2 linked regions of the Homo sapiens genome follow. The protein of the gene in region 2 purifies or fractionates together with the protein of the main gene of each other region. This does not show direct contact. Each region holds a gene or a part of one and is shown on either strand. Other genes may lie near its edges.

Evidence for each region. The genes of interacting proteins can lie anywhere in the genome.
Region 1: the proteins of FAM78B (region 2) and FRYL purify together in Homo sapiens (affinity purification with mass spectrometry; one large-scale study listed by BioGRID and IntAct). This does not show direct contact.

The regions. Positions count from the first base shown.
Region 1 is NC_000004.12:48,539,280-48,542,779, forward strand, and holds part of FRYL (protein furry homolog-like), read right to left. Parts: intron 2,843-3,500; coding exon 2,748-2,842; intron 1,682-2,747; coding exon 1,074-1,681; intron 790-1,073; coding exon 692-789; intron 1-691. UniProt on the Homo sapiens protein: Plays a key role in maintaining the integrity of polarized cell extensions during morphogenesis, regulates the actin cytoskeleton and plays a key role in patterning sensory neuron dendritic fields by promoting avoidance between homologous dendrites as well as by limiting dendritic branching.
Region 2 is NC_000001.11:166,164,202-166,168,157, reverse strand, and holds the start of FAM78B (protein FAM78B), read left to right. Parts: upstream 1-1,156; 5' UTR 1,157-1,909; coding exon 1,910-2,172; exon of another isoform or gene 2,173-2,281; intron 2,282-3,956.

The DNA.
Region 1 (3,500 bases), on a different chromosome or scaffold from region 2:
AAGGGACAGAGAATTTTCCAAATCCTAAAATATATTATGCCCTCTTCTTCCTCAGAACCTCTGCATCTGTAATTTCTTCTGCCTAGAAAACTTCAAACCCTGAACTCCACTCTTTGCCTCTCATCCAGGGACCTTACTTTGGTTTATTCCTATCCATTCTTCGATAGTGATCTAAGTCAGCTTAGATATCACTTCCTCTAGGAAGACTTCTGTTTTGTGTGCTCCTTGAGTATTCTGCCCCCCACCCTCCCCCTGCCCCGATAAAATACCAAATCAGACTCTCTGATTACTGTCTATTTACTTCACTGCATTCCCCATGATAAAGTACACTATCTACTTTGCTTATCATGTATTTGTAGCATCTAACCCAGTGCTCAGTAAATATTTGGTAGTAAATAAACGAATGAATGAGAAACAGACAGAGAGGCAGAAGTATGGAAAAAGAGCAGAAAAAGACTCAGACTCAGAGGAGTGTTACTCTAACTAAATAATTTTATTTACTGTCATTTGAGCAGTTGTAACTTACGCCATTACTATGCAAGTCCTTTATGTGCATAAAAATAAAAATTTAAATGCAAAATTCATATGGGAAGTGACAATAAAAGGAGTTTTAAGAGATTTCCCCCTCCTTTAACATAGACTACAAAATAATTTCCCTATAGTGTTACCTTTCAGCATAACATTTGCTTACCTTTGCTATTCGACTAGCTGTTTCTTTGCAAAACTGAGTTGGGCTGTCAAAATGCTGGATTAAGTGAGGCAATAAGCAAAGGATGTTAAGAGGAAAGCCTATCAAAACAAAAAAAAGCAAACAATAACCAATTTTATTGCACATTATTTTAAAAGTTAAAGTTATTTTTTTAGATGGTTCACAGAAACCATTTTCTTTTCATTTCCTGGGATATTCGATCTTCTAATTCTTTTTTGGCTTTTACCAAATAATTTAAGCTACCTAGCGTATAAAAACTATGACTATTTGCAAAAAGCAGAAATTAGTAGATTTCAAAACAAATGATTAGTTTACATTTTACTGCATAAAATGCAAAGTGCTGGTGCAATTATATTAACATCACCTGACAATTGGGAAGGATCCACCAATGTATGTTTGGAGACAGAAATGAGTTTACTGAGGAGGTGCACGGTCATTTCTTGTGTAGATGCTGAGGTAAAACCCTTAAGGAAGAGCTGCTGAAGTCCTGGAAAATTAGTCCATTTCAATTTGCTTTGTACATTTTCAATCTTCTCTCGACTCTCTGATTTATCCAAAGGCAAATGGATAAGCAGTTTGTTGAGAAGCCTGAGAGCCAGGAGGTATTCATATTCATAATCTGATTCTAATAAAGATGCTGCTATCCAAAAAATGGTGGCCATCAAGTTGGTAGGCTCAGTAGTGGACTGCACGTCATACATTCCTTTCTCTCTTAGAGAGGAAAGGCTTCTAGTCCTTGCTAAACTACTGCTATGGTTTATCCGTCCATCCATTATATCCAGTGTGTTACTCCGCCGCCGGTCACCTCGTCGGTCACCAATCAAACTTAATCTCAAAGAGTTACTTCTTGCATTACTGTTATATCCCAAATAACTGCTACTATTAATGGGACTTGTGCTTAGATTGAGTTGTCCAGTGCTTTTCCTGTTAGCTGCATACTTGTTTCCCATTATAGGATCATGATATGAGGTTCTTAAAAAAAAGAAAGAATAGATGAATGCATACCCAGTCACTTCTTTTGCTAAATTAATTTTACTTCTGAAAACACTGAAAAATAGTAACTGGTACCAGAAAAATCATTTTTCAGTATATCTGACTTTGTTGAATCAAATTTCAGTTTTCCCTTCAAATTCAAAGAAAATGTACAACAGTATCTTTTCTCTTGTGGCTAACAGTTTCCTTTGAGTTGAAAGGAGGCTCTACTTGCTGAGAAAATTCTGCTATAGTAATCGCTAACAACGTTCAGCTCTGAGATTTAGGCATACATTATGTCCAAAGCTGACTTCATTTGTCTTGTCCTCAAACTTGATGGTCCTGATGTCCCTATTTCTGTCAATGACACACTCTTTTCAAAAGAACTAAGCTCAAAAATTTTCGATTTCTCCTCCTTCCTCACATCCAATTTTTATTAAGAAAATATTGACTGAATGCTTTTTATGTTTGCCAGCTGTATAGAAAAGGAAGGAATATTAGACAAGTCTTTTGAAAGAGGGGATAGATATGTAAATGGATAAATTTATAGCCTGCTAATTGCTATTATTACAATATGAAAAAATCACTATGAGAACCCAAAGGATGGAATAATTAGCACTACCCTGAAGGAGTTAGAAATGCTTAGCTAGGAAGTGACATTTGGGATGGGACTTGAAGGACTAGTCAATTCTGGGCTTGCAAGGTAGAAAAAGTGGGGAGAGAGGCTGCTGCAGGGAGAAGGAACAATATGTGAAAGGTGGGAGAGCCTTAAGGCTCCCAGACAGCTGGGGGAGAAACAGGATGCTGAATCCTGAATGTGGCAGGAATGAAGTGGTGCATTAGAAAGATCTCTAACCAGCACATTAGAAGAAGAACAGCACTGCTAAAATCAGCACTTGGATTTTTCACAAGTCCTCACTGTCTGCGGCCCATCTCCCCACTGGTAATCCATCTAATTTGGGCAGTATTGTGCTTACTAACAATATTAGAATTTTAAAAGTTATAGCTATATGTAGTTAGCTATTCAAGTTCTCTCTATATTAGGTTGCCTGGTTTAAATTCTTACTGAGAAAGGGCAGAAAGAAGATCATAATGCTTCATGGTTTCAGCCAAAGTATCAATTGCAGATTCCAATGTGAGAAGAAGCTCAATCACAAATCCCTGGGGGGAAAAAGGCAGATTTTAATTAATTATGCTCTGGAATAAAGAAACTGCAATGGACTTCCTAATGGGATTTTAAAATAGAACAAACTCCATGTTATGTTACAAAATGATTAAACTCTTGAGCAACATGATCTTGCTGATTGATGCAAACTCATCCAATCAATGGTGTATAAATTGATTGTAATGGTGCCACAATTTACTCAAAATTGCTCAGGTCAGAAATCTAGGAACCATCCTTGTTTCTTTCACATCTAAACTGAATCCACCAGCAAGTCTTGAAAATATTACTTTTGTTTGTTTGTTTGTATTTGAGACGTAGTCTTGCTCTATTGCCCAGGCTGGAGTGCAGTGGTGCAATCTTGGCTCAATGCAACCTCTGCCTCCCGGATTCAAGTGATTCTCCTGCCTCAGCCTCCCGAGTAGCTGGGACTACAGGCATGCGCCTGCACACCTAGCTAATTTTTGTATTTTTAGTAGAGACAGATTTCGCCATGTTGGCCAGGGTGGTCTCGAACTCTTGATCTCAGGTGATCCACCCGTTTCAGCCTCCCAAAGTGCTGGGATTATAGGTGTGAGCCACAGTGCCTGGCTGAAAATATCACTTTTAAAATACACATTAAAAATCTGACCACTTTCCTCTACCTCCATAACTTCC
Region 2 (3,956 bases):
ATTTACATGTCTGGCCTTCCACGGCACTGGATACACAACCCCACTAAAGCAGGTGTCACAGTTTACTATAATAACTTGTTAACAGGTTTATTTTCTCCAGTGATCCATGTGCTCTTTTTCAACTTTGAATCCCTAGTACCTAGCACTATGTTTGGCTCCTGCCAGGCAGGCAGTCAGCCTTTGCTGAATGAAAGGACCAGTGATTGAGGTCTGTGGCTACACGGTAAAATGAGAGAGACGAGTCATCAAAGGGAAAAACTGCTTTTTTGTTAACTATAAAGTGAACCAAGGTGTCAGAACAGTTAAAACAAGGATGAAGAGTGCTTTTAGATCTCAATCAATTTTTAAATTACTCGTCACACCTGTCCTAGCTAAAGACTAACTCTAGCACCTCCTGCGGCCTGTTAGTCAGTATTTCACACTTGGGCAGCAGATCCAGCAAATGTTCAATGATCGCAGAAGAAATACTTAGAAGCTATTGGCTTTGAAAATAAAAATGTAAGAAGATGCCTAGTAAAAGCATCTGCTAAATATTCTTCCTGTTTGGCACATTAGACTGCAGTATCAGACACATGACCGTGGTCATACTGTACACAATGCCCAATGTCTGCCAAAACTCTGGCATATGAGAGACTTAGTGCTGGAGTACGGAGGGATTCTTCCGGTATCCCCACTACACACAGTGGTGGAAAGAAGAGCTTCCAGAACAAACCCAGTCAGGCAAAGAGGCAAATACACTGCATTTAGTAACGCTGCTGGAGCCCGCCCTTCACCCTTTCTGAAGGTAGGATACTAAAAGGGCTCAAGCCTAAATCTAATCCAACAAGCTATATTCTGAATAACGACCAATCTCTGATAAAGCTGTTCCCCTAACCCTTCTGCTGCCCGAAACACTCACTCTACAGCCCCTACTGGGCTACCGGGTTCCCCACTGGACTCTGGACAGCGCCGCGCCCTGCTCGGCCTCACCCACCCGGTGGCGCTTGGGCCCGCCCTAGTCCCCCACCCCCACCCCAGGGCACCACCTACCAGGGCCCCGCCCCGCCTCAGCCCCACGTGCGGGGCCCCACCCCGGCGCTAGCGGCCCTTTAAACACCCCCACCCTTACACATTACCCCCCCCCCACCCGGACGGCAGCCGAATAGGGACAAAACTCATGGCGTACAGCCAGTTTCCTCCGCGGAGCACGTCCTGTGCTGCTCCAGCCGTTGGGGCTCTCCACCCCGGGCCACAGCCTCCTGGCGCCCCCCGGGCCGAGGCAGCCGGGCCGAGGAGTGTCGGTGTGGTCCGGCTACGGGGCGGGGCCGGCGGGAGCTCCGGTCGCCGCCGCCGCCGCTGCTGCCTCCGCCTGCCTCTTGGGCCGCCCGCTCGCCCGCCGCTGGGTGCGCTGCACGCGGGGGGCAGCCGTGGTGCAGAGGTTCATGCAGCGGCGGCGGCGGCGGCGGCTGCTGCTGCTGCCGCCGCGGAGGCAGACAGACCGGGCGCTGCCACCGCCGCCCTCCCCCGGCTCCATGCCGCCGCCGCTGCCGCCTCCTCCTCTCCGGCGAGGGGCGGGGGGCTCCGGCCCGGGGTGGGCACCATTCCTCGCAGCGCCGCTCCCCTCCCTGCCCTCCGCCCGGGCGCTGGAGCCGGCGAGGGCACCCGCCGCCTCCTAGGAGTGCACCCTCCGCGCGCCCTGCCGGAGCGAGGGGGCGGGCGTGGGCGGACGTCGGGGCAGCGGGGACCCCGCGCGGCTGCAAGAGGAGGGGGCTTCCCCAAGGATGCCCGGCGGCTCCCCGCTCCTAGGTGCGAGCTGAGTCTGACCGGGAGCGAGCGGCGCGTCGCCATGCCGGCGTGACGGGCGCCCCCGGCTGCCCGCGCGGGCCCCCGCGCTGCCCCACGCCGCGCCGTGCCGGCACCGGGCTGCAGGATGGGCTGTATCCAAAGCATCACCTGCAAGGCGCGGATCCGGCGCGAGAACATCGTGGTGTACGATGTGTGCGCCACCATCGACCAGTGCCCCACGCGCATCGAGGAGACCTCGCCCATCGTCCTGCGCTACAAGACCCCCTACTTCAAAGCCTCCGCCCGCGTGGTCATGCCCCCCATCCCCCGCCACGAGACCTGGGTGGTGGGCTGGATTCAGGCGTGCAATCAGATGGAGTTCTTCAACACCTACAGCGACCTGGGCATGTAAGCGACTCGCCGCGCGGCACGGGAGCGGACTCTGGGCCCCCAGCTCTGCTTGCCACCTTGACCCCCCTCCCCAGCTCCTTCCTACTGCTGTCCCCATCGTCTTTCTAAACCTTCCTCCCGCCTCCTCTCCCACCTCCCTCCTCCCTACGCTTTTGTTTCAGTGACAGGGCGGGTGTAGGGAGGCTCCTTGCGAAGGCATTTTCTCGTGGTTTGCTTCTGACTTCCCAGAAACGCGAGGAGAAAGGTGCGGGGCGGGAAGAACGCGACAAGGAGGGTTCGAGAGGCGGAGGTGGGGATGGCTGGCGAGTGCCTGGCGAGTTTCAGGGCGCCGTCTGTGCTTTGTGGGGCTCCCCGGGAAGAGTTTGGGGGAAACCATAGAGGAGTGGAGTGGAGTGCCGGGGGCGCATGGGCTGTGCCGCGCGTCCTTTGGAGAAACCGGAGCGGGCTTGGAAGAGCAGGTCCCGGGCATCCGAGCGGGAGTTGGTAGTTCTGTCCTTGCCCTCGCGACTGTTGAAGTTTCGAACCCTTGTCCCCCGGGCCAGGGAGCCCGGAGGCGTTTCCGTCTGGAACCACAAGCCGGACACAGTTGCCTCTCTGTTTCCGCGCCCCCTGGACCAGTTCTGGTGGGGAGCTGGAAGGCACCGAGTGCGTCCCGGCCAAGAAGGGCGGATAGCCTTGTGCGAGCAGCGTTCGGCTGGCGCGGCGCGGGGTGTTTCTTATGCTAAAGGAAAGGATGGATCTCTTGTCTGTCTAGGGTCCTTACTTTTTAAAACTTTCCTAATTGCGGCACTGGAAGGGATTCCCCTGGCGCCCACCGCCGAATTCTATCGGCGAGCTGGGAGCTCTCCAACTTTCAGCAGCGCCGGTTGGTGCGCGCCGGGCTTGGCTGCTGCGGTGAAGACCAAGGATCGCCGCGGCTCCTCAACCGCCAGGGGCCGCAGGCTACGGGCGGTCGCGTCCGGGACTTTTATATTTACCAAATTTTCATAACTCCGCACCCGCCTCCTTTCAGAACTAGACTCTGAGCAGGTGGCAACGACAATAGCTAAAAGGTTTAGGGCCTGCCTTCTACCTGCTGTTACAATGTAGGTCTAGAACACCCTAATTAGCCAGTCTGCAGCCTACAGGGAAACCCTTTTTCTGGAAATTCAACCTCATTTCACTTATTAATCTAAAACTCTAGAGCTCCCAAGGTTCGTCTATTTAATATGGATATGGGGTGGGGGAGTTCCCATTTTAAAAGGTCAAACCATCTTTTTAGCAGCAGTTTGCAGGCTTTTTATTGCACTCTGAGAGCATGTCAGTTAACACTAGTCATAGGCGCTAAAAGAAATTTGACAGGTCGTTGTTTTCCTTTTTTCCTCCCAAAGATTTTGCACTTTTCTCTTTAAGCACAAAAGCTTAATCCTTGAGAAAACTCAATTCCTAGTGAAGAAATGTGAGGCCCAGTTTCCAATATGCCTCAGCACACTGTATTCTTCCAGAGAAGACAGCTAGATGTGAGAAATGGGGGATATTTTATTTGGGGCGAATCATGCCATTTAAAAACTGACATACCCTCAAAAGAATGATTATATGTGAACACATGTGTCTCTTAAAACTGCTTTTTAAAATAAATCCATTGTTTCCAGCCAAGTCAGAGAAAGCCACAGGCAGGGCAAGAGCCCTTCCTCTCATTTCCCTGGCCTCACCCTGATGGCAGTGGGTTGCTGGAGGACAGCAAGTGCTCCCCACAGCAGCCTGGGGCCCCTGGTAGAGGAAGCCAGGAGTGACTGTGCAGA